7 linked regions of the Homo sapiens genome follow. The protein of the gene in region 1 interacts with the protein of each later gene in a biochemical or structural test. Each region holds a gene or a part of one and is shown in the gene's direction. Other genes may lie near its edges.

Region 1 (2,890 bases):
AACTCTATGAATATGTGCTGTGTTTTTGAGTCTAGCAGGGAATGTTCTAGATGCCTGGGTACATTGCGTGCTCTGGGGTGAGCTTGGTGGTTGTTGTGGAAAGAGTGAAATTCAACTCCTGTGTTGGTCAAAAGAGAGATTTTCTTTTTTCTGCTATAATTATATAAAGTAGTATTTCTCAATCTTTTATCCTTTTTTGAGAAACATAGAACTCTTATCCCTGCTACTAGAGTCTAATCTCTTTTTTATATTTTGAAAACAATACTTATTCATATGAAAGCATTTGACAATATATTTTTCTCTCCTCTTTTTTTTTTTTTTGAGACGGAGACTTGCTCTGTCACCGGGCTGGATTGCAGTGGTGCGATCTCGGCTCACTGCAACCTCTGCCTCCTGGGTTCAAGCGATTCCCCTGCCTCAGCCTCCCAAGTAGCTGGGACTACAGGCGTGTGCCACCATGCCCAGCTAATTTTTTTTTTGTATTTTAGTAGAGATGGGGTTTCACCATGTTGGCCAGGATGGTCTCGATCTCCTGACCTCATGATCCGCCCGCCTCGGCCTCCCAAATTGCTGGGATTACAGGTGTGAGCCACCGTGCCTGGCCTCAATATATTTTTCTCTTACTCTTCCTTCCCCAATCCTGCTTCCTGGAGGTAGCCAATGTTTATAGTTTGGTGTACATCTTTATAAGACTCTTTATGTACATCTGTAAACACACACACACACACACGCACACACAGTACTTTGAAAAAATTGGATGCTGTTTTTTTTTTGAGATGGAGTCTTGCTCTGTTGCCCAGGCTGGAGTGCAGTGGTGCCATCTCAGCTCACTGAAACCTCAACCTCCTGGGTTCCAGCGATTCTCCTGCCTCAGCCTCCTGAGTAGCTGGGATTACAGGTGTGTGCCACCACGCCCAGCAAATTTTTGTATTTTTAGTAGAGACGGGGTTTCACCATGTTGGCCAGGCTGATCTCGCACTCCTAACCTGAGCCGATCTACCTGTCTTGGCCTCCCCAAAGTGCTGGGATTACAGACAGGAGCCACCGCGCCTGGCCAGATCCTGTTTTATGTATGTTGCTTCTCTGTGATTTTTTTTCTCCTCTTATAATATCATGGATATTTTTCTGTGTCAGCTTATACCCTTGTTTCCTCTTTTCTTCATCACTATCCACAGATTCTGATATACCTACCTGAAGGATAGTCCTCATCCAGCTCCACCTGATCATCTCCTTTTAACCTCGCTCCTCGGTTGAGCATTACAGTTGATTCTTACTCTGTACAGTCTCACTAGCCAAGGCAATCTTGTTGGACATTTGATTGTTCGAATGTGTGTGTGCATTTTTTCCTCTACATTTCCTCCTTCCTTTGCCCTTCCCTGAGACTGTGGCATTTTTCCTTGGGGAGGGGAGGTGTGGAGTGTGCTCTTCTGGTTGAGAATCATTGAGGAAGGACATCTTGCTTCTGTGATTTCAGATTTCACTGCAATGTTGTTACCTCTTGAAACATGTTCGCTTGAACCGTTTGCTGTTGGGTGGATGGGGTTTGGGAGTTGGGCGGGGGAATGACCTGTTTGAAAATAATTTTGGGTGCTAATTTCTGGGACCCATGTTCATTTTCTGTCTCTCTCTTTCGTTTTTCTATCAGGACCAGTATGTTTTCCTCAATCAGTGTGTTTTGGATATTGTCAGATCCCAGAAAGACTCAAAAGTAGATCTTATCTACCAGAACACAACTGCAATGACAATCTATGAAAACCTTGCGCCCGTGACCACATTTGGAAAGACCAATGGTTACATCGCCTAATTCCAAAGGAATAACCTTTCTGGAGTGAACCAGACCGTCGCACCCACAGCGAAGGCACATGCCCCGATGTCGACATGTTTTTATATGTCTAATATCTTAATTCTTTGTTCTGTTTTGTGAGAACTAATTTTGAGGGCATGAAGCTGCATATGATAGATGACAAATTGGGGCTGTCGGGGGCTGTGGATGGGTGGGGAGCAAATCATCTGCATTCCTGATGACCAATGGGATGAGGTCACTTTTTTTTTTTTTCCCCCTTGAGGATTGTGGAAAACCAGGAAAAGGGAGCTATGATTTTTTTTTCCAAAACAATTTCTTTTTTAAAAAAGACTATTTTATATGATTCACATGCTAAAGCCAGGATTGTGTTGGGTTGAATATATTTTAAGTATCAGAGGTCTATTTTTACCTACTGTGTCTTGGAATCTAGCCGATGGAAAATACCTAATTGTGGATGATGATTGCGCAGGGAGGGGTACGTGGCACCTCTTCCGAATGGGTTTTCTATTTGAACATGTGCCTTTTCTGAATTATGCTTCCACAGGCAAAACTCAGTAGAGATCTATATTTTTGTACTGAATCTCATAATTGGAATATACGGAATATTTAAACAGTAGCTTAGCATCAGAGGTTTGCTTCCTCAGTAACATTTCTGTTCTCATTTGATCAGGGGAGGCCTCTTTGCCCCGACTCCGCTTCCCCTGCCCCCTGTACATTTGTGCTCCATTTTTTCTTCCCTTTTCCCTCCCAGTTTTCTCCAAAGACTCTTCTGTTGGCAACATTTTCAACCCATTGGTTGGGTGAGAATGGCGACTCAAATATCACCTTGAGAATTTCTGTGGGTGGGAATGGGAGAAGCAGAGGAATCCTACAGTGGCAGAAATCCTTTTCTTGTCCCTGTATTATCCTTTTTCTCATGTCTGTATTTGGTATGAAGGATTATTTAAAGGTGCAATATGTGAATTAGTGATTCATGATGTTCTAGGTTTTTAGTAACGTTTTACTCAGGTTGGCATTTTATGTGTCTGTGTCTGTATGTGTGTGTGTATGTTCAGAAGCGTGGCAATCTGTGAACACTTCAGCGTG
Region 2 (3,500 bases), on another chromosome or scaffold:
TGGCAGCTGCCTGGCAAGAACCTGCTCCAGCTCTGCCCCCAAAGCCTCGAGGCTCTGGCTGTGCGGTCTCTGGGACACCAGGAGCTCATCCTGGGCGGGGTGGAACAGCTCCAGGCCCTGGTGAGTGAATGCTGGTCACACTGGCTGCAGCTTCCACCAACCTGGGGGGTGTGATGGGGGGCTGGCTGCTGCCAGGGAGGTGACTTGCCCTCTTTCTGGCACAGAGCTCCAGGCTACAGACAGAGAACCTGCAAAGCCTGACAGAGGGACTTCTGGGGGCAACCCATGACTTCCAGAGCATAGTCCAAGGCTGCCTGGGGGACTGTGCCAAGACCCCTATTGATGTCCTCTGTGCAGCTGTGGAGCTGTTGCATGAAGCTGACGCCCTCCTCTTCTGGCTCAGCAGGTACCCGGGTTGGGGTGACGAGTGAGGGACTATTGTCATCCTTGGCCTCCTTCAGGGCGTGGGAGAGAAAAACAGATCTTGGCTCTTGTTCAGATATGGTGAGCCAGGCGTGGTGGCTTAGGTCTGTAATCCCAGCACTTTGGGAGGCCGAAGCGGGCAGATCACTTGAGGTCAGGAGTTGGAGACCAGCCTGGCCAACATGGTGAAACCCCATCTTTACCAAAAATATACAAAATTAGCCAGGTGTGGTGGTGCGCACCTGTAATCCCAGCTACTGGGGAGGCTGAGGCAGGAGAATCACTCAAACCTGGGAGGTGGAAGTTCCAGTGAGCCGAGATCATGCCACTGTACTCCAGCCTGGGCGACAGAGTGAGACTCCCTCTCAAAAAAAAAAAAAAAAAAAAAAAAGATATGGTGGAGCAGGGCAGAGGGATTAATCCACCTGTGCAGGGGCACTGGGATGCCAGAGTTCCCACCCCACCCTCCAGCTTGTAATAATCGATCTCATCAACAACCACTGAATGGAGAGCCTCCCCAACCCTGTGCACTGGCTGCTGCTTGTCCTACAGACCCCACCTCAAATGTCATCTCGGGGAAGCCTTCCCTGTTGTACACTCTCCAAGCTATACTATTAATAAATAATAAATAATAACTTATTATAAACTCATTATCCAATGTTTCATGATACTCATTACAGCCAAAGTTAAATTGATATTGATGTATGATGTCTTTACTGTCTGTTTCCCCAGTGCCTAGAACAGGGCTTGGCATGTGGTAGGCACATGACAAATAAGTCCTGTGCTAATCTCTTTAGATGTCTCAATCATCTCCTTTACTCTAAACCAAAACCCATCAGAGCAGGTATTATCCCCAAGTCTCTGAGGTGAGTAATTGGTGAGTAATTGGCTCTGAGTGGTTAAGCATAGTCCCTTAACCACTGTGCTATTCTTCCCCTGCCAGGTACCTCTTCTCCCACTTAAATGATTTCTCAGCATGCCAGGAGATCCGAGACTTGTTGGAGGAGCTGAGCCAGGTCTTGCATGAGGTAGGAGAACCAAGGGCCAGGCTTGGCCCATGCCCTAGAGACCAAGCTGGGCTAGAGCTTTTTATAACCTGTGAATCAGCCCAGGATCGAGTATGAGGATTGAGACGGGCGAGAAAGGAGGAGAGGAGGCCCTGCCACTGGGTATGGGACAATGGGGCCTGGGGTCCCCTAGCTGGCAGGGGAATTTTGACACTCAGGACAGGGAAGGAGGGGAGGGCACGTGTGGTGACTTCTGGGGGCCTGGTATCAGGGAAACGAGCCCTCTGGTTAAAACGCTGAGGCCCTGTGGTTCTGGGCAGGGGGCCAGTGTAGGGAAGGCAGGGAGGGACTGTACGGAATCCCACCCTGCCCCCAGGAGAAGGCAGTCCCCTTATGGCCCTTGCTCAGGGGAGGCCCCTGCTCTCTCATTCTACTTCCAGGATGGTCCAGCGGCTGAGAAGGAGGGCACAGTCCTGAGGATCGTGAGTCTGTGGGGTGGGAAGAGAGTGGGGGTAGGGGCGATCGGGCTCAGGCTACATAGCCCGCTCCCCTCCCCCAGTGCAGCCACGTGGCTGGGATCTGCCACAACATCCTGGTCTGCTGCCCCAAGGAGCTGCTGGAACAGAAGGCCGTGCTCGAGCAGGTGCAGCTGGACAGTCCATTGGTGAGCCCTGCCCTCCCACCTCTCACTTCTGACCCCTTGGCAGCCTTGTCTGGGCCCTGAAATAGGGTCCAGGATCCCACAGAACCCTGTGCTGCCATGGCTGGAAAGCCTTTTTTGTACAGATGCTAAAATGGAGGCCCAGAGGATTGGCCAGGGTCTCCCGTTGCTCTGCACCTCCCCAGTCCTGAGGGGCCACGCGGGTGTGGCCTCAGGTAGTGTGTTCCAGCCTTGGGATGGAGACGGGGCAGGGGCTTGGGGGCAGTTAGGAGAAAGGGAGAGGATGTGACCTTTCTTGGTTTAATCTTTGACCAGTGGGGAAGACCAGAGCCCTATCCCTGCCCTGTCCCTGCTTGTCCCTTTAGGAATGTTGCTGAGAAGCTGGTACCTCAGAAATCAGGGTCTCCAGCTTCCCTCTGGCTCTTAGCAGAGGAGAAGGCAGAGGCCCACAGGAGTAGCAAGTCCAAAGTCATACAGCAAGTCTGGGCAGGACCAGCTTGGGGTCAGCTCTTGCCACAGTTCCACCCACCATAGAGTCCTGGTGTCTGGCGGGGGTCCTGCCTATTGGCCCTGTTGCCCCCCAGCCCCCGGTGACTATAGCCTCTGCCTCTGCAGGGCCTAGAAATTCACACCACCAGCAATTGCCAGCACTTTGTGTCCCAAGTGGACACCCAGGTGAGAGCCCCACACCCTTCTCAGCCGCCCATCCCCGAGGCCTCTCACCTGCAAGCCAGGCCAACCTCAGGCCCCATTCCCCACGTCAGGTTCCCACTGACTCCCGACTGCAGATCCAGCCTGGAGACGAGGTTGTCCAGATCAACGAGCAGGTGGTGGTGCGTGAGGAGAGGGACATGGTAGGAGGTGAAGGGGTCACCGAGTGGAACCCAAGTCTGGTGGGTGGGGAGGCAACCAAGGGTTCTGACCAGGGTTGTGGGAGCTGCCTTCCAGGAGATGAGCCAGCTAAGTCTGGTGAGAGCATCCTCTGCAGAGCCCAGGTGATGGGGCCCATGGAAGCCCCCAGGAGGCTGCATGAGTGGGAGGCAGAAGTGGGAGGCTGAGAGAGAGCTCCCAGCACGAGGGTGAGAGTTGGTGGTTGCTTTAGAGCCTCCTGCCCAGGTTGATACCAGCCAGTGTTTCTGTCCCCCAGGTGGGATGGCCCCGTAAGAACATGGTGAGGGAACTGCTGCGGGAGCCAGCCGGACTCAGCTTAGTGCTGAAGAAGATCCCGATACCGGAGACCCCCCCACAGGTACCTTCCCCTGCCGCCCCCCGACCTGCCTTCAGACCCCCCCCTCCACAGGTACCTGCCCCCACCACCCCCACACCTGCCTTCAGACCCCCCCCAACAGGCACCTTCCCCTGCTGCGCCCCCCTAGCTCCCTTCAGACCCCCCCACAGGTACCTGCTCC
Region 3 (3,500 bases), on another chromosome or scaffold:
AAGGGATTATCAGGTATATTCACGTTACTGGTTGGGGGACTTCTACTAAAATACCAATTAGAATAATTGCTCTATATCCCTTATTTATAGCGATACTTGACTAGCAGAATCAGTTCTATGTTCAAGACACTCCCAATTTGTGAAAATAAATCCATTTTGTTTGCATCCAAAATAATGCTTTTTTTTTTGTTCTCTCTGTGTCGAGAGGCTACAGAGTTCATTCAAAAAAGGTATTAAGCCAGGTGTGGTGGCTTGCACCTATAATCACAGCATTTTGGGAGGCCAAAGCAAGGGGACTGCTTGAGCCCAGGAGCTCAAGACCAGCCTGGGGAACATAGGCAGACCCCGTCTCTACAAAAAATAAAAAAATTAACTGGGCTTGGTGGTGTGTACCTGTGGTCCCAGCTACTCAGGAGGCTGAGGTGGGAGGATCACTTGAGCCCAGGTGGTTGAGGCTGCAGTGAGCCATGATCATGCCACCGCACTCCAGCCTGGGCAACAGAGTGAGATCCCATCTCTAAAGGAAAAAAAAAAAAAAGAGAGAGAGCGGAATTAAAGCCAGGTGCAGTGGCTCCTGCCTGTAATCCCAGCTATTCGGGAGGCTGAGGTGGGAGGATTACTTGAGGCCAGAAGTTTCAGGTTGCAGTGAGCTACAATCATGTGCTGTACTACTCCAGCCTGGGTGACAGAGTGAGATGTGAGACTCCATCTCTTTAAAAAAAAAAAAAAAAACCAGGCTGGGCGCAGTGGCTCACACCTGTAATCCCAGCACTTTGGGAGGCGGAGGCAGGTGGATCACAACATCAGAAGTTCGAGACCAGCCTGACCAACATAGTGAAACTAAAATTAGTTTCTACTAAAAAACACGTCTCTACTAAAAATACAAAAAATTAGCTAGGCATGGTGGCGGGTGCCTGTAATCCCAGCTACTCGGGAGGCTGAGGCAGGAGAATCGCTTGAACCTGGGAGGTGGAGGTTGCAGTGAGCTGAGATCACGTCACTGCACTCCAGCCTGGGCAACAGTGCGAGACTCCGTCTCAAAAAAAAAAAAAAAAAAAACCCAGCCTGTGTGACGTGGTGAGACCCTGTCCCTACTAAAAATACAAAAATTATCCAGGCGTGGTGTTGCCCACCCATAGTGCCAGCTACTCAGGAGGCTGAGGTAGGAGGATCACCTGAGCTATGGGAGGTCGAGGCTGCAGTGAGCCATGATTGTGTCACTGCACTCCAGTCTGGGCCACAGAGTGAGATACCATCTCAAAAAAAAAAAAAGTATTATGTATTTAAACAAATATGAAAAAGGAGGTAGCCCAGGACACATCCCTGATTTACCCACTAGAAATTAATTACTGACGGGGCACGGTAGCCCATGCCTGTAATCCCAGCACTTTAAGGGGCTGAGGCAGTGGATTGCTTAAGCTCAGGAGTTTGAGACTAGCCTGAGCAACATGGCAAAACCCTGTCTCTACAAAAATTAAAAAAATACAAAAATTACCCGGGCCCTCTCATTCACAGCTTCTCAGGTAAAAAAAAAAAAAGAAAAAGAAAAAGAAAAAAAAAATAGCTGGAGGCTGGGTGCGGTGGCTCATGCCACACCTGTAATCCCACACTTTGGGAGGCCAATGCAGGCAGATCACTTGAGGCCAAGAGTTCTAGACTACCCTGGCCAACATGGTGAAACCCCATCTCTACTAAAAATACAAACATTAGCCAGGTGTGGTGGCACACGCCTGTAGTCCCAGCTCCTCGGGAGGCTGAGGTAGGATAATTGCTTGAACCTGGGAGGCAGAGGTTGCAGTGAGCCGAGATTGCACCACTGCACTCCAGCCTGGGCGATAGAGTGAGACTTCATCTAAAAAAATAAAAATAATAATAATAATAATAATGATAATAATAATAGCCAGGCGTGGTGGCACATGCCTGTTGTCCCAGTTACTCAGGAGGCTGAGGTGGGAGGATTGCTTGAGCCCGGGAGGTCGAGGCTTCAGTGAGCTGTGATTTTGCCACTGCACTCCAGTGGCACAAGAGAGCAAGAGAGCAAGAGGGCAAGACCCTGTCTCAAAATAAAATAAAATAAAGAAAGAAATTATTTGCCATGCCTGCTAGCCCTGATTCTTGATATTGCTTGATATTGTCATGAGGGTTCTATGTGGGCATGAATAGCTAAGGCTCTTTATTGAACATGGGCAGCTTTGTCATTAATCAAGTCTGGGTCGGGGCAAAGGCGAAGAAAATGTTTTAAATGATTCATTTTTTTTTAATTTTATTTTTATTTTTATTTTATTTTATTTTATTTTTGAGACAGAGTCTTGCTCTGTCGCCACGCTGGAGTGCAGTCCCGGGTTTAAGCAATTCTCCTGCCTCAGCCTTCCGAGTAGCTGGGACTACAGGTGTGCACCACCACGTTCAGCTAATTTTTTGTATTTTTAGTAGAGATGAGGTTTCGCCATGTTGGCCAGAATGGTCTCGATCTCTTGACCTCATGATCCACCCACCTCAGCCTCCCAAAGTGTTGGGGTTACAGGTGTGAACCACTGCGCCTGGCCTTTTATTTTTATTTTTACAGAGACAAAGTCTCACTATGTTGCCCAGGCTGGTCTTGAACTTCTGAGCTCAAGTGATTTTCCCATCTCGGCCCTAGGATTACAGGCGTGAGCCTCCAGCCCTGGCTATTCTAAATGATTTCTGACAGATTTTGCCATGAGGTGGTCCAGAGTACAACAATGGTCTGCAGTAGAATAGTCTGCTTGTTCTTTTTTCTTTTTTACTTTTTGTGCTCTACATGTTCAGAGAAACTGAACTAAAGAAATGATCCCTAAAGGAAGTATAGTCTTGTCTGCTGTTTTTTGTGTTGCTTTGTTTGTTTTGTTTTGTTTGAGAGAGGTTCTTGCTCTTTCCCCCAGGCTAGAGTACAGTGGTATGATATTGGCTCACTGCAACCTCAACCTCCTGGGCTCAGCGATCCTCCTACCTTAACCTCCTGAGTAGCTAGGACTACAGGCGTGCACCACCACACCTGGTTAATTTTTGTATTTTTTGTAGAGATGAGTTCTCACCATGTTGCCCAGGTTGGTCTTGAACTCCTGGCCTCGAGTGATCCTTCCACTTTGGCCTTCCAAAATGTTGAGATTACTGGCGTGAGCCATTGCATCCGACCACCTGCCTGTTCTTGATGTAAAGCATTGGCCCAAGAAACTCAGCCACGAAGCTGGCACACATTTTGGACAAAATGTTCAATAAATCAATAGGTCTATAGTTGGAGGAGAAAAAATGTTAACTTAAAAATTTTTTTTAATTTAATTTAATTAATTTTTTCTTTTTTTGAGACAGGGTCCCCTGTCGCCCAGACTGGTGTGCAGTGGTATAATCACGGCTCACTGCAGCCTTGACTTCCTGGGCTCAGTGATCCTCCCACTTCAGCCTCCTGGGTAGCTAGGACTACAGGCAAATGCCATCACGCCATCATGCTTGGCTAATTTTTTTTTTTTTTTTTTTTTTTT
Region 4 (3,500 bases), on another chromosome or scaffold:
AAATAACCGAAATTGTATTTTGACCAAAGTGCATTCCCTCCCCACCCCCTACTATTATGTAAGGAGAGGGTGCTGCATCTGGTGTCTTATGTATTATACTGAAGAGTCTAAGTTGGGAAAGCTAAATATCCAATTATTTTAATTTTTACCTGTATTGTTTTTGGAGGGAGATAAGGGAGCAGAGTATTGATGGAAAACAAGGGAAGAAGAAACTAGGGGCAGCTAGTATTCAGCCAGAAAGTAAAATTATATACATTATTGCAGCAGTAATGCATTTATAAGCTGAATAAATCAAATCTAATTTTGTGACTAGTTCTGACATGATATGAATTTAAAGAAACTACTACCAAATTCAGTTTAATAAAAATTTTAGCATTTCTATGACCTTGAGTATTTGGATTAGGTTTAAATTAGAATCGCAGTTTTCTTCCTTTTCTTGTAAATAGGCAAAGTAAATTTAATGTAAAAATTTGAAACTCGCTTTAATTTTTGAAAATGCAATTATTGGCAATTTTTGACCTTAGTAATTTCCATGCTGTTACCCAGGGATCAATTTAAATAATATTCATACCCTGGATGATGCCAACCATCAGGTAAGTCTAGTCTCTTACCTGACTCTTTTGAAATATTAAGGTATTTTGAGAATGCTCTGTAATCTAATGTGTTTTTCTTTCTGTTTCAATTGAGCAGTAATTCCCTACCTTGCTTAATTCTAAAATGGACATCATATCTTCATTCTTAAATGGAAGGTAAAATAGAGGTTACTATAGGGTTATTTTAGGGCATAAATGCCTATGGTATTGTATGTCAGTTTGGGAAGTTTGCCTTCACGCCTTCAAGTGTACAGGGAGATAGTTACTCCTTCAATGTGTGAAATGATTCTGTAGTGCCCTTCCTGCACTGAAGGGGGAAGAAGAATCTGAAACATAACACCAGAGGACTAGGTATGTTTGGAGAATTAAATAACTATTTCACAGCCAGACAACACTACAGACAGCTGCAAATAGAGAAAAGAAGGAAAACTTTTAAGATACGTGGATGTAAGCTTTCATTCTTACATCAATGGAAGTGATGATAGCAGTCAGCAGGTCAGTTCGATGCTCAGTGATAAGAAATAACAGGGTTATTTCAAGGTAAGGTAATCAGGCTCTAAGTTGCCAAGAACAGTAATTCATGTACTTGCTGGTTTCAGTTCAGAAGTTGCATAACATTCAAATATTTCTTACCTTGTCACTTTAATAATTCAGTGGAATTATCTTAATTTAGTGTGCTATGTTACCATTACTAAATTGGGGATGTTACATGATGGTGATCTTCAATTAAACTTAGGAATGTTGCAGACATTTTCTTCATCATTGACCTGTTGTTTTTCCTTTTCATAATTCAGATTTGTTTGATATACCAATAAATGTTGGCTATATCACTGATCATTTTATTATTCATAGTCTTGATAACATTATAGTTTATTATGACTCATATATAATGATTCATTGCAGCTGATAAAATGTTGTTAGGGATTGTATTGTGAGATTTTATTACTACCAAATATATAAATTAAAATGTGGAAGTGTCTGAGTTATTGTAAGTCATGTGATTGCAAAGCATTTTTCCTGAATGGAATAATGCCTGGTGACTGGGTGGGTGCCAATCCAGGTAGCTAGATATAGAATAATACAGTCTTCACAAAATCCAGAACTCACAATATAGGGTAGGGAGGGAGGGGGCCAGGGGAAGCACCTTTCTTTGACATCTGAGGCATGTTTGACTTCTATAGTTTCCTCTCCACTAAATATAAATTGGGTGAGTTGCAAATATTTAATGGTGTTAGTACTGCTCTTCCTTCATCTGTGCCCCTACACTGCCCCCACCACCCTGCCACAACACACACACACTATGCCATCACCACATCTGTGAGCTTGGCAAGGCAGAGGAAGCTCCTTATGGCCTGAGACCATGTACATAAAATGTAGACATTGGTGTCCTGTATTCCAGGTTGAATTTAAAACAGGTATGGGGTTTGACACAAAAATGATACTGTATATGAAGGTTAGGTAAAATATGTATTTGAAGTGAGGCTATCAGGGTACTATGCAGGCTTTTGGGGCCTGGCCCGAAACTTGGAATGCAGTTTTTCATAGAAACCCACAATCAGTTTACAAATAGACTTTTGAAACACTGGCTAGGTGGTATCTGAAGTTTTGGCCCATTGCAAGCTGTGTCTGAATTGCAAGCATGAGGGAAGTAAAAAGCATCCCAAATCAGAAATTAGGAGATCTGCCATTAAACCTTATTACCTTGACAAACCATTTAATGTTTGGATGATAGCTTCCTCCTTTTAAAAATACAATTTGGATTATATTGATCTAAGTTATATTTTAGCTCAAGATTCCTGAAGTTCACAGTGGTTTTTAAAAATTTTTCTTAAGAAAAAAAAAAGAACAAAAAACTTTTCCAAGCTTGAATATACATAATCAGCCCTGTTTCCCCTTGTACCTCAAATCATGGCAACAAGGAAGTTGAATTTCTCTTTTGAGACTTTTGAACCTTCTTCACATTCATTTTTAATTGTTTTGTTTTAAAACAATATCATTTTGGGAAGTGAGGGGAAGGGATGAAGCACATGTTTTCAAAGTCTTGCTGTCTGCCTCTACCCTAGTCTGAGATTACATATGGTAGTTTTGGCCAGGGAAAGTGCTTGGGATTTCACCTTCATACTCAGTGAGGCTCATGAAGTGTCATTAAGGTAGTGAGGTGTCATGATTAGCAGCCTTACTGTCAGGGTCCAATTCTGGCACTGCAACTTGCTGGCTGTGTAACCTGGCAGATTGTATAATCTCTGTGGTCCTCGTTTTGCTCATCTGTAGGATGGAGTGATAAAAGTACCCACTTCATATGGTTGTTGGGGAGATTAAATGAATTAATACATGTAAAGTGCTTACAACAGGAGCTGGTTCAGAGCCAGCGCTTAATACATTGAAATAATTATTTTTACATTGTGGTGCTTTTATGATGGTTTCTGCAGCATTTACCAAATGCCAGGGAAATTATTGGCTTGCTTTCTGTGTGGGTTTTGTCAAAATGATTATGGATTTCAACAGGATATTTCAGAGAAGAAATAAACTGCTGAACAGAAACCATTGTGAGCTTGATAGTTTGCAGGACATTGTAGAAAAGAGAATCCAGCACAGTAATTAAGGGCCTTTTTAAGTAGGGAAGTTGTAGCTTCTTGCGGTAGGCAATACTTAGAGAGGCATTAACCACCGCTAGCCAACAAGTATAGGAGAATGTATACAATTATTGCGTTTGTAATCCCAGGTAGTAGTCATTTTATAAAATGTCTTTGCTAGTCAGTACATGAATAAAGCGTTAGAAAGTGTTCATCATTTAACACCATTTGCCCAAATGCAGCTTGTAAATTAACTCTTTAAGCTGGCTTTTCTGTCTGAAAGTGATCACAGTTGAAAAAAAAAAAAAAAAGGATATTTGAAATCAGCAGGAGA
Region 5 (2,515 bases), on another chromosome or scaffold:
CCTTAGTTGTACATAAATACTTTTGTGTCAACAAAAACTTTCAGCTCTCACAGAAGACAGTTACTCAACATTTTTTGATGTGCCACAGTTTCGAGTTTTTCGATATTTAAATTTTTTGGCTTTTCATCTAAGTTTGGGTTTGTATTTTTTCCTTCTAAACTCTTCATGTGGCAGAGTCTTCTATGTTTTCACAGCTTTTTCATTACAGAAAAGAACACTTGCTCTTCTGTGATTATTGTCATGTATTAGGCTAATGCTGTGTTGTCTCCCACCTGGAACTGAATTGCTTGGTGGAACATATGCTTTCACTGTTTGTGCAATATGCATTTATTTCTTATATGAATGCTTTAAAGTCATTTGAGGTTAGATCTTTTAATTCCTATTTTCTGCTTCATTGGTCACTTTTTTTTTATTGTAGTATAAGATGTTAGATTCTGTAATCTTCACATTCATTTTAGCAGGTACTGAGTGATGCTGTATATACAAATAAGTGTATTGTTTTGATTTTTAGACCACCACATGGCATGCTTGACTATTTCTTATTTCAAATGTCTGCTAATGCAGAGTAGGCTACTCCATGATAGTGTTAAAAAACAAAATTTGCTAACAATGTGATATAAAGACTTTAAAAGTTACACATTATGTGGAGCCCTATCTTTACAAAAGTTTCCTACTGTAAAGTGCTTTTATTTTCAGTTTTCACTTGATAGTACTCAACCATAATTAAAGTTGCATAAGATAATTGCTTTACATTTCACATACCTATATTTATCTGAGTGCTGTCTAAAACTGTTGTGCTAGCCAAAGTAATGCTATGAAATCATTTGCAGAATTAACCCGTGAGTTAATGTTAAATGCACTGTTATTGCCATGTGAAGAGGCATCGACTTTGATACCACCATCATGTTCAGACCATTTTATACATTTCAGTGGCCTTTTTTTTTTTTTAAGGAAAAAAAAGCGCAAAACCAAGTACATAGTGACGATGGCTTTTATTTGGACAAATAGCTTTTATATTTTCATTAAACCATGCAAAAAATACTACATCTTTCTGGCACATAACTGTCTCCTTAACCACTGAACAGTTCAGCCATTTGAATAAATTGTACATTGTAAAGCTTATAGTAGCTGATTGTATTATTGATTGTATTGTATACTATATTAAATGTGAATTTGTACCCCTTCATTTTAAAAGGTCATTGTGTTCTACTGCCTATTTTAGATTACTTTGGGGTTGGGGAAGGGTGTTTTGGTAAGCAGGATTTTAAGTCCTCTCTCTCTCGATTGGTTTTATGAAGATATAAGGTTATGCTCTTACTACCAAGCTCAGGATTCTTGATTTTAAAGGTACAAGGATAGTTGTGGGAGTTTTATTTTTGGTTATATTTGAACTGTATGAATGGTAGGTCTGAATATTGAGAATTTCCATGGTCTTATGTGGAGGTAAAATATACAGATAACTGATCAGTTTGAGTGACTGCAACATGTTCTGGTTGCACAACAGTTAGGCATGCTATGGTTTATATTTGTGAAGTTTGGATGCCTGTGAAGAATGATTAAATACATGTTTCTAATATTTTAGTGTTTTGTATTTAGGTTATTTATTCTTTGTATCTAAAACTGAACAGCTACTGTGCTATATTGATTTTATTGGTAGTATTGAGCAGACCTTGTTTCTGCATGAAACTAGTTGCAAAACCCACTATTTTGGAAATAAAAATGTATTTTGACATATACAAATAAAATGAATAAAACTATTTTAAATGTGTGAACTTTTAATGAAGACATTTTAAATTTTGTTCTGAGATATTTAAATTCTGCATGGGTATTTTTTCACTAATTGCTTTACTTGGATACCAATTTGAATAATTTCTGAAATTGTAATATTGTGATAATTTGCACAGCATTGTACATGCACATCTGTAAATGCAATCTTAATTGCCATATTTATGCAATCTGTGTACCAATTTGGACAAATGTTTATATATTTTACATAAAGCTGTCTGTATGCAGAATCTGAGAACTAGTTTTTTTATGATAATAAGTGGGTAAAAATTAATAACAGTGAGTTTCAGGGTAGTTGCTTTGTAGCACAAGATTTCGCTTCCATAAACATTGTTTTTTTTTTTTTTCTTAAAGTAAACCTGTGCTTTTTCTTATCTGCAAACATAGGCTTAGCGATACATATAAAGGTAATATTCCATTGAAACATACAGTTTACTTTAATATTAGATCATTTTCCAATTTAGATTTGTCCAAGGTTCGACCTGCTAACACATCTATAAATAAGAGGCACTTTTAGCCAGGCATGGTTGGGAGGCCCAGGCGGGAGGATCACCTGAGGTCAGGGGTTTGAGACCAGCCTGGCCAACAGGGCGAAACCCCGTTTCTACTAAAAATAAAAAATGAGCCAGGTATGATGGTGCAATCGCCTGTAGTCCCAGCTACTCAGGAGGCTGAGACAGGAGAATCACTTGAACCAGGGAGGCAGAGGTTGTAGTGAGCCAAGATTGTG
Region 6 (3,500 bases), on another chromosome or scaffold:
TCCACGGTTTCCTAGGAAGAGAAACTTGATCTGATTCAATCCTGACGATGATTCAGAATCAAGTCACTTTGCCTGTCTAACCTCACCCATGGTCCTCATCTGCTGCAGGAGGCGATGCCGCTGCTGTTGTTTCTAACTGCTGCTGTGCTATTTGCACCATCTCTTTGTTTCTGATCTTCCTTGGGCTGAGACTCAGTTTGTTAGAACTGTGTGTAAAACAGGAATGAATAGGCAGTGAGGTCCTAGTGGGGTCTCCAACGAGCTGTGTACAAATTTGGTACTTGGGATGCGTGACATCTGTTTAGCTGCTCAGATGGCTGGTTTTAGTTTCAGTTTGGGATATTTTGTGCCTATTTTGAGGCTACTGGTTAGATTTTAGATTTTTCAGATAATTAAATACGTGATCCAGGCTGGGCGCAGTGGCTCACGCCTGTAATCCCAATACTTTGGGAGGCCGAGGTGAGAGGATTGCTTGAGGCCCTGTTCAAGACCAGCCTGGGCAGGACAGTAAGACCCCGTCGCTACAAAAATAAAACATAAAATAAAAAAAAAATGTGATCCAGGAGATAGTCAACGAACAAACCTAAAGGAGGAAGGCCATTATCTGCTACATTCTCTCCCACCCCTCTCTCCCTTCTCTTCCCTCCCAGCCCTCCTCTCCTTTCCATCTGGAGCCAGAGGGGCTCTCCAAAGACTTCAGCCCCAGCCCCAAGCTGGCTAAAGCTCCTTCTTATTCCCCCCTCTCTTTCCTGATCTAGAAATCTGGGGGTCTGCCATCCCTGGGGCTGACCCTGGCCAATGTCACCAGTGACCTCAACAGGAAGAACGTGACGTGCTGGGCAGAGAACGATGTGGGCCGGGCAGAGGTCTCTGTTCAGGTCAACGTCTCCTGTGAGTCTCAGTGGCAGCTCCGGCACCCACCCCCTACTCATCTCTTCTTCCCTCAAAAGAGGATGTAGGGTGGGGGGCTGGAAGAAAGGGTGGGATGTGTGTCTCCACAGCTGCTCCCTCCCAGCTGTTTCCAGATTCCCATGAAAACCTGATCCTTTGGGGGAAGTCCTGGGGTCTTGTCAAGGCCAGAGGGATGGAGATGGATTTCTTTCTGGCCCCCTGCCCGAGCCTTGCTACCTGAGGCCCTCAACGCCAGATGCCCGGCTGTTCCCACTGCTCCGAAGTATTTTTTCATGCCCGTCCCTCATCGGGTCCTTCTCCCCGCATCCTAGTTTCAAAAGAGGAAATTCTCCTCCTGAGTTCCTCTTTACGCTCGCTGCCTAATTTCTCTAGATCAGCCAACAAATTATCTTAAATATTCTACTTTACATCAGTTTTCTTCTTTTATTGTGAAATATACATAGAAATGTGCAAAAAATATATATATTTTAAACAATAATTACTCTTACCAGCATCACGGAAGATCCCCCACCACCCAACACCTCTCCCTGTTCGCAATCCCATCCCACTCTCCCATCTCATGTTGACTTTTGTCAGGATAACCATTTCCTTGCTTTTAAAAATAATTTTTCTCAAATATGCTTTCCTATCGGTATCATTTAGTTTTGCCTGTTCTTGTACATTATATAAATGGAATCATACTGCGTGTATTATTTTGTATCTGGTTTCTTTCATTCAACATTATATTTATAAGATTCATTCATGTTAATGGGAGTTGCTATATGTAGCTCATGCAATTCATTGCTAAATAGTATTCCTATGTATGAATGCTATATTATATATATATATACATATATTTATGCATACATACACTTTTTTTCTATCATTGAGGGGCTTTTACTTTTACCAGATTGGGTCTATTTCTTTTTTTTTTTTTTGAGATGGAGTCTCGCTCTGTCACCCAGGCTGGAGTGCAGTGGCGCGCTCTCGGCTCACTTCAAGCTCCGCCTCCCAGGTTCACGTCATTCTCCTGCTTCAGCCTCCTGAGTATCTGGGACTACAGGCGCCCTCCACCACGCCCAGCTAATTTTTTGTATTTTTTTAGTGGAGACGGGGTTTCACCGTGTTAGCCAGGATGGTCTCGATCTCCTGACCTCGTGATCCGCCCGCCTCGGCCTCCCAAAGTATTGGAATTACAGGCGTGAGCCACCGCGCCTGGCCCAGATTGGGTCTATTTCAAACGCATATCTTTTTTCAAAAAGAGTGTGTGTGTGTGTGTGTGTGTGTGTGTGTGTGTGTGTGTGTGTTTGAAGAGATGGGGTCTCAGCCTGTTGCCCAGGCTGGAATGCTTTGGGATCATAACTCACTGCAGCCTTGAACTCCTGGCCTCAAGCGATCCTCCCACCTCAGCCCCCTGAGTAGCTGGGATTACAGGAGCAAGTCACTGTGCCTGGCTTTTCCCCAAAAATTTAACTGTATATATTTTTGGCTGGTTTGATTGTTAGGGCCCCTGACCCATCTTCTTCAGCTTGGTTACACTGACTTCTTCTAGATTCCTTATCCCAAAGACTCCATGTTTAATTGTCATAAGCTGATACCCCACTCCTGTGGGGCTGTGACTTATTTATGGCCCACCACTTATGTTCTTTAAGCCTCTAAATTTTATATGCCTGCTGCCTGATTTATTTAAAATGTATTGTCAACTTTCTTCAAAACATCTCTCCTTGGTGAATTTCCCAGGGCCTGCTGACCTGTTTCTCCCAGGCCTGCCCTTTGATTTCGGGTTCTACTCGCTTTGCCCGTGGACTTGTCGGGTGTGTGCCAGGCTCCCTCCAGCTGCGCCCTGACCTCCTGCTGTTGCTCTTTCTGGCCCACAGTCCCGGCCAGTGTGCAGCTGCACACGGCGGTGGAGATGCACCACTGGTGCATCCCCTTCTCTGTGGATGGGCAGCCGGCACCGTCTCTGCGCTGGCTCTTCAATGGCTCCGTGCTCAATGAGACCAGCTTCATCTTCACTGAGTTCCTGGAGCCGGCAGCCAATGAGACCGTGCGGCACGGGTGTCTGCGCCTCAACCAGCCCACCCACGTCAACAACGGCAACTACACGCTGCTGGCTGCCAACCCCTTCGGCCAGGCCTCCGCCTCCATCATGGCTGCCTTCATGGACAACCCTTTCGAGTTCAACCCCGAGGACCCCATCCCTGGTGCGAGGGCCATCCTGAACCCTGCCCCCACTCCTGGGCTCCTCCTGGGTTACAGCCAACTTCCTGCTATAGCCCTGACCCCAGAAATTGGAGTGCCTGGTTCGGGACAGAAAGGAGTCTGGAGTCCTGGTGTCCCGCTGTTCTGGCCTCCTTACCCTCTCCCCAAGCCAGGACTCCTGAACTCCTGAGCTATTCCGTCCTTGTCGGCTGGCTGAGGAGACAGCCATGCAGCAGGGCATCCTGGCCCAGCTGGAAAAGGGTCACATGCATCTTCTTCCTTGAGGCCCAGCAGCCCACCTCCATCCCCCCTCGTCCCATGAAGGAATGAGTCCCAGAGTAGGCAGGGGACTCACTGCTTTCCTCCTCCCTCTGACTGCTTTCTCTCCTCCCTCTGACTGCTTTCTC
Region 7 (2,564 bases), on another chromosome or scaffold:
TCTCCCTGGGGCTGGCGACAGTGGACATCCAGAACCCTGACATCACGAGTTCACGATACCGTGGGCTCCCAGCACCTGGACCTAGCCCAGCTGATAAGAAACGCTCAGGGAAGAAGAAGATCAGCAAAGCTGATATTGGTGCACCCAGTGGATTCAAGTGAGAGCCACTCCCCAGTGGACCCACAGATTCCTGGGGGCAGAGGGGCACATGAACAAGTGGACAGCTGAGTGAATGGAAGGATGGGCAGATGGGCAGATGGCTGGGTGGCTGAGTGGGTAAATGGGTGGTTGGATAGGTAGGTGCAGGGCTGGGTCTAGGGAGAGGTAAATAAGGCACCAAGGGTACAAAATTTAAGGAGGCACTCACTCTCAGAGGCATGCAACTGTAATTCCTGACTCTCAGAGTGAGTGACTCACTTAAATTTTGCACCCTAGGCACCTTACTTGCCTCACCCTGGGCCCACTCTGGGTGGGCTGTTAGGAGAGCAGGTGGGTGGGCAGGTGAACAAATGGATAGATAGATGAGGTAGATGATGGATGAGAAGGGCTGGTGGGTAGGTGGGTGAGTGGATGGGTGGATGGATGGATAAATGAATGGATGAATGAATGGGTTGAAGAATGAATGGATAAGTGGTTGGATGGACAAGTTTATGGGTGGATGGGTTGATGGGAGGTGCGTGGATAGATAGATGGGTGAGTGGATAGGTGTGTGGACAGATTGATATGCAGGCTGATTGGCTCACAGACAAGGTGGATGGGGATGGACAGGTGGACAGATACGTGGATGAATGGACAGTTCAATGGATAAGTGAACAGAAGTGTGTGGTTGCATGGGTAGAAAAATGAGTGGATGGATAGATGGAAAGGTGGGCACATGGGTAGGTGGATGGGTGGATGGACAAGTGTGTGTGAGGACAGACTGGTGGACAAATGGGTGAACAGACATATGTGGGCAGATAGTTGCAGAGACAGATGTATGGACAGATCAGTAGTCCAACAGATGAATGTGAATGAATAGGTGGACAAATGCATGGGATAGATGGGGAAAGAGGGATGGGTGGATGGATCAGCACCACAAACTATGGAGCCCTTCTAATTCCATAACTCCTGCCTATACTCATTCACTCATTCAGTCTCATTCATTAATTCTGGCCCCTCAGAGTCTCTTTGGGCAGGAGAGGGCAAGAGGGTTTCACTATGAAGGGAGGGAAGGAAGGGCAGTGAGGATTCACTGGAGTCTCTTCACCTCTCCCAGGCATGTCAGCCACGTGGGGTGGGACCCCCAGAATGGATTTGACGTGAGTAACTTCAGAGTCTCTTGGACTCCACTAAACTTCCACCCACCCTTCCAAAGACCACTGCTGAGACCCCACCCCCAGATCGTGCCCTTCCCACACCCCTCTCAGATCCCTTGCTGGGATGGACCCAACGACAATCCATGTCGCTTGTCTCCTCGCCTTATTCCTCTACTCCTGCCCCTGGCCTTTTTCCTCCTGGGCAGGTGAACAACCTCGACCCAGATCTGCGGAGTCTGTTCTCCAGGGCAGGAATCAGCGAGGCCCAGCTCACCGACGCCGAGACCTCTAAACTTATCTACGACTTCATTGAGGACCAGGGTGGGCTGGAGGCTGTGCGGCAGGAGATGAGGCGCCAGGGTGAGACCCTGCTTCCATACGCTCCCTTCTCTAGCCCAAGCAGCTCATAGCTAAGATACGCACTAAGTCACTCAGTCCTTATGGGAGCACCTATACTGCTTCAGTCAGGAGTTGGTCAGTGGGGGTACCCATTTTACAAATGAGCAAAACTGAGGCTCAGAAGAAATCAATGAGAGTTACAGCTATGTGTTATACCCCCTCCACAGAGCCACTTCCGCCGCCCCCACCGCCATCTCGAGGAGGGAACCAGCTCCCCCGGCCCCCTATTGTGGGGGGTAACAAGGGTCGTTCTGGTCCACTGCCCCCTGTACCTTTGGGGATTGCCCCACCCCCACCAACACCCCGGGGACCCCCACCCCCAGGCCGAGGGGGCCCTCCACCACCACCCCCTCCAGCTACTGGACGTTCTGGACCACTGCCCCCTCCACCCCCTGGAGCTGGTGGGCCACCCATGCCACCACCACCGCCACCACCGCCACCGCCGCCCAGCTCCGGGAATGGACCAGCCCCTCCCCCACTCCCTCCTGCTCTGGTGCCTGCCGGGGGCCTGGCCCCTGGTGGGGGTCGGGGAGCGCTTTTGGATCAAATCCGGCAGGGAATTCAGCTGAACAAGGTGAGGACAGGCAGGATGGAGGATTGGGGGTCTAGGACTCTGGGGTGTCCCGTCTAAGTCAGGATACTGGGGGGCTGAGGCCAGGACTGAGGAGAGTGCCAGGCCTTAGGGATTCAGTGATAGGGTTGAAAGGTTGGTGGGAAGCCTTGAAGGGGACTGGAGTGTGTGGGAGAGAAAATATTGATGGAGGGGCGGGGAGAAATGCTCCTTTCCCAGGCCCTAAGCCCTCTGTGCTGATCCCTGCCTGCTGCAGACCCCTGGGGCCCCAGAGAGCTCAGCGCTGCAGCCACCACCTC

Evidence for each region.
Region 2: the proteins of PTPRJ (region 1) and CNKSR1 form a complex in vitro, tested with the Homo sapiens proteins (one large-scale study listed by BioGRID).
Region 3: of the proteins of PTPRJ (region 1) and LCK, one has a biochemical effect on the other in vitro, tested with the Homo sapiens proteins (one large-scale study listed by IntAct).
Region 4: of the proteins of PTPRJ (region 1) and PKP4, one has a biochemical effect on the other in vitro, tested with the Homo sapiens proteins (one large-scale study listed by IntAct).
Region 5: of the proteins of PTPRJ (region 1) and PPP1R12A, one has a biochemical effect on the other in vitro, tested with the Homo sapiens proteins (one large-scale study listed by IntAct).
Region 6: of the proteins of PTPRJ (region 1) and NTRK1, one has a biochemical effect on the other in vitro, tested with the Homo sapiens proteins (one large-scale study listed by IntAct).
Region 7: of the proteins of PTPRJ (region 1) and WAS, one has a biochemical effect on the other in vitro, tested with the Homo sapiens proteins (one large-scale study listed by IntAct).

Annotation. Positions count from the first base shown.
Region 1 is NC_000011.10:48,165,559-48,168,448, forward strand, and holds part of PTPRJ (receptor-type tyrosine-protein phosphatase eta isoform 1 precursor), read left to right. Parts: intron 1-1,645; coding exon 1,646-1,804; 3' UTR 1,805-2,890. UniProt on the Homo sapiens protein: Tyrosine phosphatase which dephosphorylates or contributes to the dephosphorylation of CTNND1, FLT3, PDGFRB, MET, KDR, LYN, SRC, MAPK1, MAPK3, EGFR, TJP1, OCLN, PIK3R1 and PIK3R2. Plays a role in cell adhesion, migration, proliferation and differentiation.
Region 2 is NC_000001.11:26,180,491-26,183,990, forward strand, and holds part of CNKSR1 (connector enhancer of kinase suppressor of ras 1), read left to right. Parts: coding exon 1-120; intron 121-224; coding exon 225-406; intron 407-1,366; coding exon 1,367-1,451; intron 1,452-1,870; coding exon 1,871-1,912; intron 1,913-1,989; coding exon 1,990-2,094; intron 2,095-2,706; coding exon 2,707-2,766; intron 2,767-2,855; coding exon 2,856-2,924; coding exon of another isoform or gene 2,925-2,945; intron 2,946-3,238; coding exon 3,239-3,340; intron 3,341-3,500. UniProt on the Homo sapiens protein: May function as an adapter protein or regulator of Ras signaling pathways.
Region 3 is NC_000001.11:32,257,765-32,261,264, forward strand, and holds part of LCK (tyrosine-protein kinase Lck), read left to right. Parts: intron 1-3,500. UniProt on the Homo sapiens protein: Non-receptor tyrosine-protein kinase that plays an essential role in the selection and maturation of developing T-cells in the thymus and in the function of mature T-cells. Plays a key role in T-cell antigen receptor (TCR)-linked signal transduction pathways.
Region 4 is NC_000002.12:158,459,952-158,463,451, forward strand, and holds part of PKP4 (plakophilin-4), read left to right. Parts: intron 1-3,500. UniProt on the Homo sapiens protein: Plays a role as a regulator of Rho activity during cytokinesis. May play a role in junctional plaques.
Region 5 is NC_000012.12:79,773,068-79,775,582, reverse strand, and holds the end of PPP1R12A (protein phosphatase 1 regulatory subunit 12A), read left to right. Parts: 3' UTR 1-2,015; downstream 2,016-2,515. UniProt on the Homo sapiens protein: Key regulator of protein phosphatase 1C (PPP1C). Mediates binding to myosin. As part of the PPP1C complex, involved in dephosphorylation of PLK1. Capable of inhibiting HIF1AN-dependent suppression of HIF1A activity.
Region 6 is NC_000001.11:156,870,865-156,874,364, forward strand, and holds part of NTRK1 (high affinity nerve growth factor receptor isoform 2 precursor), read left to right. Parts: intron 1-758; coding exon 759-891; intron 892-2,768; coding exon 2,769-3,095; intron 3,096-3,500. UniProt on the Homo sapiens protein: Receptor tyrosine kinase involved in the development and the maturation of the central and peripheral nervous systems through regulation of proliferation, differentiation and survival of sympathetic and nervous neurons.
Region 7 is NC_000023.11:48,686,799-48,689,362, forward strand, and holds part of WAS (actin nucleation-promoting factor WAS), read left to right. Parts: coding exon 1-157; intron 158-1,255; coding exon 1,256-1,298; intron 1,299-1,501; coding exon 1,502-1,655; intron 1,656-1,861; coding exon 1,862-2,268; intron 2,269-2,521; coding exon 2,522-2,564. UniProt on the Homo sapiens protein: Effector protein for Rho-type GTPases that regulates actin filament reorganization via its interaction with the Arp2/3 complex. Important for efficient actin polymerization. Possible regulator of lymphocyte and platelet function.